Linked DNA regions of Homo sapiens: region 1 is linked to region 2. Evidence: fine-mapped expression QTL. A gene starts in region 2. The other region holds a variant in brackets. All regions are shown on one strand. Distances are from middle to middle.

Region 1 (5,371 bases), 22 kb after region 2:
TTTAGTAGAGATGGTGTTTCATCATGTTGACCAGGCTGGTCTCGAACTCCTGGCCTCAAGTGATCCACCTGCCTCAGCCTCCCAAAGTGCTGAGATTATAGGCGTGAGCCACCACGCCTGGCCCTGTCTCAACTAAAAATACAAAAATTAGGCCTGGTGATGCACTCTTGTAATCCCAGCTATTCGGGAGGCTGAGGCAGGAGGATCGCTTGAACCCGGGATGTGGAGATTGCAGTGAACCAAGATTGTGCCACTGTATTCCAGCCTGGGCAATAGAGTGAGACTCCATCTCAAAAAAAAAAAAAAATTAAGGGGAAAAAAGAACTCACCCACTTTGGAGATAGTTTGCTTTAAGGAATTAATTTTTCTTCATCTTGAGCCTAGTTCATAATGTTACTTTGTTTCTTTGCCCCTTTGTAAAGGGCTGGAGACAGGAACTAGACTCAAGTTAAATGGAACAGGGTTGGCAGATCTCTTTCTCTCATTACCAGCCAAAGACCTGGTTCTGTTTCAGGTTCAGAGTATGTGTGTACATGTTGATAGCGGGTGGGGTACACACACGAGAGTAACTTGTACGGTGGAAGGACAGACATAAGTCCTCCTGGTCACTGGTGTGTGGTAGGAAAGAGTGCCTGCCTACGAGGGGTGTGTGTGTGTGTGTGTGTGTGTGTGTGTGTGTGTGTGTTTGTGTGTGTGTGTGTGTTAGGAATTCTTGTAAACGCAGTTCAGACTGGTTCCCCAGCTTTGACAGACACCTAATTCCCTGGGGGAGGAGGGCAGGGCAGGGCAAGGCAAGGGGCCGGCTGTGGGTGGTGAGAGGTTTTGGGGTGGGAGGTGTCAGGCAGGCATTAGTATATGGTTGGGCCCTGACGCTACCACCATTCTTCTCCGTCCCCCCTCCCCCAAGCTGGCGCCTACTATCCAGCCCAAGGGGTGCAGCAGTTTCCCACTGGCGTGGCCCCCACCCCAGTTTTGATGAACCAGCCACCCCAGATTGCTCCCAAGAGGGAGCGTAAGACGGTGAGTAGCAGTGAGGGGCTCCGGGACATCTGGGAAGGGGAGAATCAAGGTCAGGTGCTGCTGGGACATTGTGCCGGAAAGAGCAGTGACTTGAGGAGGAAGGAGCTGAGAGTGGGCAGAGAATGGTGTCTGTGGAGGGCTCAGGTTCTTTGTAAGATGCTAAGATTTCAGCATAGAAGCAGGTCATGGGAAGACTGAAGTGCCTAGCGAGGAAGTTCCTGCGAGACCTGGGTGCTGGGGGGTTGGAAGAACTATGCTTGGTTTTGGGTTTCTAGTGGCTTGCCTTGGAAATGGTTTGTTTTCTGTGGCCCCAGCCCCCATTCCCCCCTGCCCCCCCAGTCCTGGAAGCTCTCAAGGCCTCCGCCTCTGCTCAGTCCTCAAGCCCTGGGCGTGGTGCCCAGAATAGGGTGCCAGAGCTGGGGAAGCCGCTGAGTCACCCTGGCTCCACCTACTGGATCTGGGCCCTGCCCCCAGAGATCAGGCACACTAGCCACAAGTGAGCCGATTGGGTTCTAGATGGGGGTCCTGGGCCCCAGGGTGTGCAGCCACTGACTTGGGGACTGCTGGTGGGGTAGGGATGAGGGAGGGAGGGGCATTGTGATGTACAGGGCTGCTCTGTGAGATCAAGGGTCTCTTAAGGGTGGGAGCTGGGGCAGGGACTACGAGAGCAGCCAGATGGGCTGAAAGTGGAACTCAAGGGGTTTCTGGCACCTACCTACCTGCTTCCCGCTGGGGGGTGGGGAGTTGGCCCAGAGTCTTAAGATTGGGGCAGGGTGGAGAGGTGGGCTCTTCCTGCTTCCCACTCATCTTATAGCTTTCTTTCCCCAGATCCGAATTCGAGATCCAAACCAAGGAGGAAAGGATATCACAGAGGAGATCATGTCTGGGGCCCGCACTGCCTCCACACCCACCCCTCCCCAGGTACTGTCTGCTTTTCGAGTGATACCCTGGCTGGGATGTCTGTTCTGCCCTGGACTCCCAAGTCCCTGGATCTTTTCTTTCAACTAAGGGATTTATTTCCCTGCTTTCCTGGATTTCTAGGCAGAGCTAAAGTAGAAATGGCTCTAGTAAAGAAGGGTTGTGGGACTCTTCAGTGCAAACTTGGTAACCCTTTGTGTCCTGCAGACGGGAGGCGGTCTGGAGCCTCAAGCTAATGGGGAGACGCCCCAGGTTGCTGTCATTGTCCGGCCAGGTAAGTAAGCCGGTGGGACGGAGCTTTTATGGGGAAAGGGAATGTTAACAGTTAAATGCTGAGGTGGTGGAGTGACTTGAACTGGGTACCAGAGAATGATGACTTAGATTTCAGGTTGTGGGATTTTGAGGGTGAATTGGGTTTTGGATGAAAGTGGAAGTATAGCTTAGGTGGGGAGAAGATGATGCGGGGTTATTAAGTTGGGAATGCCTGGGCTGGAGGATGGGGAGGAACAACAGCAGTTAAGCACTTGCCTTTAGTTGCTCATTCTTCCTTCCTATGGTGCAGATGACCGGTCACAGGGAGCAATCATTGCTGACCGGCCAGGGCTGCCTGGCCCAGAGCATAGCCCTTCAGAATCCCAGCCTTCGTCGCCTTCTCCGACCCCATCACCATCCCCAGTCTTGGAACCGGGGTCTGAGCCTAATCTCGCAGTCCTCTCTATTCCTGGGGACACTATGACAACTATACAAATGTCTGTAGAAGAATCAACCCCCATCTCCCGTGAAACTGGGGAGCCATATCGCCTCTCTCCAGAACCCACTCCTCTCGCCGAACCCATACTGGAAGTAGAAGTGACACTTAGCAAACCGGTTCCAGAATCTGAGTTTTCTTCCAGTCCTCTCCAGGCTCCCACCCCTTTGGCATCTCACACAGTGGAAATTCATGAGCCTAATGGCATGGTCCCATCTGAAGATCTGGAACCAGAGGTGGAGTCAAGCCCAGAGCTTGCTCCTCCCCCAGCTTGCCCCTCCGAATCCCCTGTGCCCATTGCTCCAACTGCCCAACCTGAGGAACTGCTCAACGGAGCCCCCTCGCCACCAGCTGTGGACTTAAGCCCAGTCAGTGAGCCAGAGGAGCAGGCCAAGGAGGTGACAGCATCA[A/G]TGGCGCCCCCCACCATCCCCTCTGCTACTCCAGCTACGGCTCCTTCAGCTACTTCCCCAGCTCAGGAGGAGGAAATGGAAGAAGAAGAAGAAGAGGAAGAAGGAGAAGCAGGAGAAGCAGGAGAAGCTGAGAGTGAGAAAGGAGGAGAGGAACTGCTCCCCCCAGAGAGTACCCCTATTCCAGCCAACTTGTCTCAGAATTTGGAGGCAGCAGCAGCCACTCAAGGTAAGGTGTGGTTGGACGGTAGAGGTAGGGCGGGCTAGGGGATATCGTTCCTTGCCCTCCTTGATGACCGCCCATTTTTGACATGTTTCTGGGTCCCTGCAATGGAATCTAAGAACTAGATTAAGGACTTTTAAGCCTAAAAAGGGTGATGCAAAGGGGAAATACTGTTCTTTGGCTGCTTTCTATTTCCCAGGGATTAAGGGTACTCCTTAAATTATTGGCAAAGATCCATGCTTTTATTTATTTATTTTTAATTAGTGGCAGTATCTGTGCCAAAGAGGAGACGGAAAATTAAGGAGCTAAATAAGAAGGAGGCTGTTGGAGACCTTCTGGATGCCTTCAAGGAGGTAAGGGAGCAGAAAATGGGAGGGGAGAGGGCCAAGTTGAGGTATGGAGCAGTGGTCATTCTGCAACCAAAACTGGATGTTCTGTTGTTCTAGGCGAACCCGGCAGTACCAGAGGTGGAAAATCAGCCTCCTGCAGGCAGCAATCCAGGCCCAGAGTCTGAGGGCAGTGGTGTGCCCCCACGTCCTGAGGAAGCAGATGAGACCTGGGACTCAAAGGAAGACAAAATTCACAATGCTGAGAACATCCAGCCCGGGGAACAGAAGTATGAATATAAGTCAGGTATGCTGAAGAAAGGGTTGAGAATGGCTTGAGTTTTCTTATTAGGGCCAGAGGAGGCAGTATGATTGCTTCATTCTGTTTTCCTTGCAGATCAGTGGAAGCCTCTAAACCTAGAGGAGAAAAAACGTTACGACCGTGAGTTCCTGCTTGGTTTTCAGTTCATCTTTGCCAGTATGCAGAAGCCAGAGGGATTGCCACATATCAGTGACGTGGTGCTGGACAAGGTTAGTGGCTTCAGTTGGGGAGGGGACGATAAGTTTGTGCTGGATGGATTGGGGAGGAGCCTGAGGTCCTGAAAGAGTAGTCAACCGCTCTAGCCTGCTTCTGAGACCTTTTCCTGTCCTCTTTGCAGGCCAATAAAACACCACTGCGGCCACTGGATCCCACTAGACTACAAGGCATAAATTGTGGCCCAGACTTCACTCCATCCTTTGCCAACCTTGGCCGGACAACCCTTAGCACCCGTGGGCCCCCAAGGGGTGGGCCAGGTGGGGAGCTGCCCCGTGGGCCGGTGAGTGGGGCTGGGTAAAGTGGCAGGTGGGCAAGGAGTGGGAGTGGATGATTCCGTGTCTCAGTGCCCGCGGGGAGGGGTTTGCCCTGGAGGCGTGTAGTAGTGGTGTCACATATTGTGCTGACTAGTTCCATGTCCCCTCTTGTCTTCATCCCTTGCTTAGCAGGCTGGCCTGGGACCCCGGCGCTCTCAGCAGGGACCCCGAAAAGAACCACGCAAGATCATTGCCACAGTGTTAATGACCGAAGATATAAAACTGAACAAAGCAGAGAAAGCCTGGAAACCCAGCAGCAAGCGGACGGCGGCTGATAAGGATCGAGGGGAAGAAGATGCTGATGGCAGCAAAACCCAGGTACTGGCAAGTCCTGCTTTTGGTCTCTCTCCATTTCTTCTCCAGGTCTGCCATCTGTGCCCTCTTTGCTTCTTTTTGTCCTTATCACTAGCATCTGTCATGCCTAAGTCCCCACCACCCTCTCCTGTCCCTCCCAACAGCCTGTTCTGAGACCCTCACTGGAACTCTTGTCTCTTCTCCCTCCAGGACCTATTCCGCAGGGTGCGCTCCATCCTGAATAAACTGACACCCCAGATGTTCCAGCAGCTGATGAAGCAAGTGACGCAGCTGGCCATCGACACCGAGGAACGCCTCAAAGGGGTCATTGACCTCATTTTTGAGAAGGCCATTTCAGAGCCCAACTTCTCTGTGGCCTATGCCAACATGTGCCGCTGCCTCATGGCGGTTAGTTTCCAGTGGGTTCTAAATCTAATGGTCTGGTTGCCCATTCCTATTCCCAAGACTCCTTGAGTCCAGCTTCTTGGTTCCCCTCCAACTTGTGCCTCTTCCAGCTGGAAGGAGGCAGAGCTGGGGCCAGAGATCTTCCTGGGTCAGGTAGTTAAAGGCTCTTGGAGGGCCT
Region 2 (5,371 bases):
AGTTACTTGGGAGGCTGAAGCAGGAAAATCACCTGAACCCGGGAGGCAGAGGTTGCAGCAAGCTGAGATCATGCCACTGCACTCCAGCCTGGACGACAGAGCGAGACTCCGTCTGGAAAAAAAAAAAAAAAAGAAGAAGGAAGTCATGGATAAAGAGGAGTTTTAGAAAAAAATCCCTCTACAGATGACTGAAGAAAGCATGAAAATGTATGGACACCGTGAAGCCAGAGATAGAATAGGCAGAACAGTTATGGACTGTTGAATTTTTGTCTGCAGACCAGCGCTGGGGGAGTCATTGGCAATGGCAATGGAAGGTCATGCCTAGAATCCAAGCACTGAGTGGAAAAGAGCAACAGGTATTTAAAATGGATTCAGACCTTTACTTCCGTATCTACACAAACATTTACCCAACATTCACTCTGTGATATGTTGTACTAGGTGTCTTTTTCTTCAATGTGTCAGAACCCATAAAATAAGATTGCTAGAAGACTCCTGAGTGTTCCCACTAGGTGAAAGGGAGAAGAGATACTTCCTTTTTTCTCACCTTACACGCACACACACACACACACAGCTGAAGAAGAAACTCTGGGGTTTGCCTAAAACAGTCAAGGGCTTTGAAGACTGAAAGACTGAGCTTTAAATTTTGATTCCGCCGGGCGCGGTGGCTCACGCTTGTAATCCCAGAACTTTGGGAGGCCGAGGCGGGCGGATCACCTGAGGTCGGGAGTTGGAGACCAGCCTGACCAACATGGAGAAACCCCGTCTCTACTAAAAATACAAAAATTAGCCGGGCGTGGTGGCACAAAAATTCAACAGTCCATAACTGTTCTGCCTATTCTATCTCTGGCTTCACGGTGTCCATACATTTTCATGCTTTCTTCAGTCATCTGTAGAGGGATTTTTTTCTAAAACTCCTCTTTATCCAGCTACTCGGGAGGCTGAGGCAGGAGAATCACTTGCACCCGGGAGGCGAAGGTTGTGGTGAGCCGAGATTGCGCCATTGCACTCCAGCCTGGGCAACAGGAGAGAAACACTATCTCAAAACAAATAAATAAAATAAAAAATAAATCCTCATTTTACTACTTGATATGATCTTCTCTGTAAAATGGACCTAACCCTACCAATCTCAAAAGATTGTAAGAAGTGCATGGAATCACTCGAAAGCAGTCCTGACATAAGCGCGTCAGTCACACGCCTCTAAGGCTTCACAGGGAAAGACGAGAAGATAGAGGACGAAGACCTTGTCTTGTTCTGCTTTTAGCTCCAGAACTTGGCGGGGAGCACAGGGCTTTATTGATCGATGTCAACTCCACCTGGCTCCCCAAAGTATTTAAAATGGTAGCCACGGGAATAGCAGAGTACTCTCTTTCAACTGGGGAGGAATATCAAATGAGGTTAATAGGCCGGGCGCGGTGGTTCACACCTGTAATTACAGCTCTTTGGGAGGCTGAGGCGGGCAGATCACTTGAGGTCAGGAGTTCGAGACCAGCCTGGCCAACATAGTGAAACCCCCGTCTCTACTAAAAAATACAAAAATTAGCTGGGCGTGGTGGCGGGCGCCTGTAATCCCAGCTACTCGGGAGGTTGAGGCACGAGAATCACTTGAACCTGGTAGGCGGAGTTTGCAGTGAGCCGAGATCGCGCCACTGCACTCCAGCCTGGGCGAGAGAGCGAGCCTCCTTCTCAAAAGCAACAACAACAACAAAACCAAATGAGGTTAATATTCCACAGTGGTGTGGGGCTAGACACAGTTACACAGACTTTATACAGGCGGCAATCAAGCGTCCTGGACGTCAAGAAATCTAGTTTGTCTGTCGCGCCACGCAGTCAACTGGAGTGTCACTGTGGGTTCTATTTACACCGTTATGAGAAAAACCTGTGGCGGAGTAAAACTCGGTAACTCCGCTCGCAGACCGCCCATCTACAGCAGTGAGCGAACCCAAACCCCACACGGCCAAGTCCCGCGGGTTTCAGGAAACTCCGAAGAGGTCGGGGGCCAGGGGCGACTATGGCGCGGGGGAGGCTGGGAATTGTAGTCTCCACCTGCCTCCGAGGGCGGGGTCCGAGGGCGGGGCTCTCAGGCCGAGGGGGTGGGTGGGTCGCCGAGCGCCCCGGCTCGCCCCGGCGTTTCCGGTCGCAGGCGGGCTCTGGAGGAGGAGGGGCGCCGCGACCGACGCGCGCGAGTTGGTCTGGGAAAAAGGGCGGTGCGAGCGGGTGCGCGCGCAGCGGGCCGGCAGTGGCGGCGGAGATGGAGGAGGGAGGCCGGGACAAGGCGCCGGTGCAGCCCCAGCAGTCTCCAGCGGCGGCCCCCGGCGGCACGGACGAGAAGCCGAGCGGCAAGGAGCGGCGGGATGCCGGGGACAAGGACAAAGAACAGGAGCTGGTGAGGCGCGACCCCGAGAGTCGGCGAAGGAGGCTGCGGGGCTGAGTCACGGCGGCTCCGCAGGCCTCAGGCCCGACACCCAACTACCCCACCGCGCCAGGGAGAGGGCGGTTGGGGCGACCCTCGGGACTCCCGGCACCTTGCCTCTCTGCTCCTCATTCTCCGTTCCGCGCTGTCACCTCCGCCGTCCCCACCAACCCTCACCACCGCCGCGTGAAGTGGACTCGGGCAGGTCATTGTCACCTCCGTTTCCTAGAGTGGCATTCAAGTAGAGCCTGATTCAGAACCCAGGCTGATTTCTCACCAGGGCTTCCCATTCCCACTCGGTTTCCTTGTCCACCTGGCCCCTCCTAAGGAGGCAGGCTTATTCTTCACCTGCCCCGGGTAAGTGGGAGGAGGACGTCTTTGGGATTCCTTCTCTTCATGAGCTGCTTCTCCCAACCCTCCAGTCTGAAGAGGATAAACAGCTTCAAGATGAACTGGAGATGCTCGTGGAACGACTAGGGGTGAGTCACGATGTTAACATGATTCGGTGCATGTTTGGATCTTTCCCACTTGTTTTATTCTTTTTTGAGGCAACTGCTATGTACGGTGGACTGTATTTTAGGGTCAGTGTTATGATGATGTTGGGAGGCAGGAGAGTTACAAAGGGTATTTGTACAGTTTTGCAGCTTTCTCTTGTGGGAGAAGCAGAGTTCTTACCTCTTAACTTGGGTCATTTGTTTTTGTGCCAGGCAGGGTGCAGGGAGTTGAGGAATCACAGATGAATGAATAAGACACAGCATTTCCTTGGAGGAGTTGTTAAGTTAAATATCTCTGTATTATGACTTGAAGGGGTGTGACTCCTTTTTGTCTGAGCCCTGTCGTCTCTTGATCAGGAGAAGGATACATCCCTGTATCGACCAGCGCTGGAGGAATTGCGAAGGCAGATTCGTTCTTCTACAACTTCCATGACTTCAGTGCCCAAGCCTCTCAAATTTCTGCGTCCACACTATGGCAAACTGAAGGAAATCTATGAGAACATGGCCCCTGGGGAGAATAAGGTAAAACTGTTTCAAACCTGGTGGAGGCCTAGTTTAGGAATTCCTTTTTACCCAGATCATGGGGGGACTCATTGTGAGTCACAGGAAGCCTGATAGACCTAAGCCGTGATCTATTTGAGCAGAGTTCATCACAGTCAAAATATCTACAGAAGAGCTGAAAGGAAGGTCAGCTTCTCAGAAGACACTGTTTCTGTCATGTGTATTGGACTTTGGGGTTTCATTAGCATGGTCTACTTTTAACGTATGTTTAACCTTGATTTTTCTCTTTTCTTCTATCCCATATACATTCATTTATCTCTAAAATATGTTCCACATTCAGTCACTTCTCTGCCTGCTGGTACAACCCTAATCCTGGAAATGTTCAGTTTTTGCATGGGTTATTGCAGCACCTCTTAACTGATGTTGTTGCTTTTGTGCTTTGTTCCTACACAGTCTGTCTCTCATGTAGCAGCTATCGTGATCTTTCTCGGTTATAGGTCTTTTCTGCTTAAGACCTTTTAATAGTTTATAATTGCAATTAAAGTAAAATTGAGAGCCTCCATTTTTTTCCACTTTATCCCTCATTTATCACCCTTCAGCTGTGTTAGTTTAAAAGGAAGACAGTGGCTGGGTGTGGTGGCTCACACCTGTAACCCTAGCACTTTGGGAGGCCGAGGGGTGGATCACCTGAGGTCAGGAGTTTTAGACCATCCTGGCCAACATGGTGAAACCCCGTCTCTACTAAAAATTAAAAAAAAAAAAATTAGCTGGGTGTGGTGGTGGGCGCCTGTAATCCCAGCTACTTAGGAAGCTGAGGCAGGAGAATCACTTGAACCCCGGAGGCAGAGGTTGCAGTGAACCGAGAGCACACCATTGCACTCCAGCCTGGGCAGCAAGAGCGAAACTGAGTCTCAAAAAAAAAAAAAAAAGGAGATAGCAACAACACCAACCTTGGTTTTTGTGAGGTTTAGCTTACATAACATGTTAAATTTCTAGTACAGAGATTGGTATGTAGTTAGTTCAGTTTCGGAGACAATGATCTTGATTCCACAATGCATGCTCCCTTTATGCTGGACTGCTGGGTTTGACTTCAAAGAACTCTTTTCTTTATAGCGTTTTGCTGCTGACATCATCTCCGTTTTGGCCATGACCATGAGTGGGGAGCGTGAGTGCCTCAAGTATCGGCTAGTGGGCTCCCAGGAGGAATTGGCATCATGGGGTCATGAGTATGTCAGGTAAGATCTTTCTTCTTGGGAATCCGAAGGGGGCTCTGAGGCTCTGAGATAATTCAGAATTTTCTTGTGGAGTACAATCTGTCTTGGAGCATCAGTGTATTGAATTTCCCAGACGCTGGATTCCTTGACCCACAGAGAAGTGCTTCCCCTGAAGCTGTGCTCTCTTAATCGTCTGGGACTATCTGTAGGCATCTGGCAGGAGAAGTGGCTAAGGAGTGGCAGGAGCTGGATGACGCAGAGAAGGTCCAGCGGGAGCCTCTGCTCACTCTGGTGAAGGAAATCGTCCCCTATAACATGGCCCACAATGCAGAGCATGAGGCTTGCGACCTGCTTATGGAAATTGAGCAGGTGGACATGCTGGAGAAGGACATTGATGAAAATGCATATGCAAAGGTCTGCCTTTATCTCACCAGGTGAGTGAACATGGTAGGGAAGGGTGGCAGGCATGCCCTCCTCAGCACCTCTCTCTCAATTGCGCCTCCTCTATTTTCCCAGAGCATTTGCTCAAGCATAGCATCACGCTGTAGTTAATCTTTTGATGTGTGTGAGTTTCTTGAGGACAGAGACTTTGTGTCTTCTTAGTAGTTCTAACATCTAGCACAGTGCCTGGTGTATATAGTAGATATTTATTATTTATTTTGGGTAAGTGAATTCATGGGGAAAATGAGTGCCTGGGACTTTCTGAATTCTTTGTTACTTTTACTTTTGTAGTTGTGTGAATTACGTGCCTG

Evidence for each region. PIP is the estimated chance that this variant, and not a neighbour inherited with it, causes the effect. A credible set is the group of variants that fine-mapping cannot tell apart.
Region 1: its variant is the best candidate, but not a certain one, in a credible set for the expression of PSMD2 in whole blood (INTERVAL, PIP 0.69).

Annotation. Positions count from the first base shown.
Region 1 is chr3:184,318,782-184,324,152 of GRCh38, forward strand. It overlaps EIF4G1 (eukaryotic translation initiation factor 4 gamma 1), which reads left to right. Exons shown (of 33, transcript NM_198241.3): 7 at 908-1,020; 8 at 1,849-1,941; 9 at 2,146-2,212; 10 at 2,501-3,322; 11 at 3,581-3,669; 12 at 3,763-3,949; 13 at 4,040-4,173; 14 at 4,302-4,460; 15 at 4,627-4,812; 16 at 4,999-5,196. Among named protein-coding and RNA genes, the nearest start is that of SNORD66, 4.2 kb to the right of the region's middle. The variant A/G (reference allele first, on the strand shown) is at 3,097.
Region 2 is chr3:184,297,019-184,302,389 of GRCh38, forward strand. It overlaps PSMD2 (proteasome 26S subunit ubiquitin receptor, non-ATPase 2), which reads left to right and starts at 2,223. Exons shown (of 21, transcript NM_002808.5): 1 at 2,223-2,383; 2 at 2,833-2,889; 3 at 3,262-3,426; 4 at 4,519-4,640; 5 at 4,829-5,053; 6 at 5,352-5,371. The coding sequence starts at 2,249. RefSeq lists a silencer at 1,891-2,230.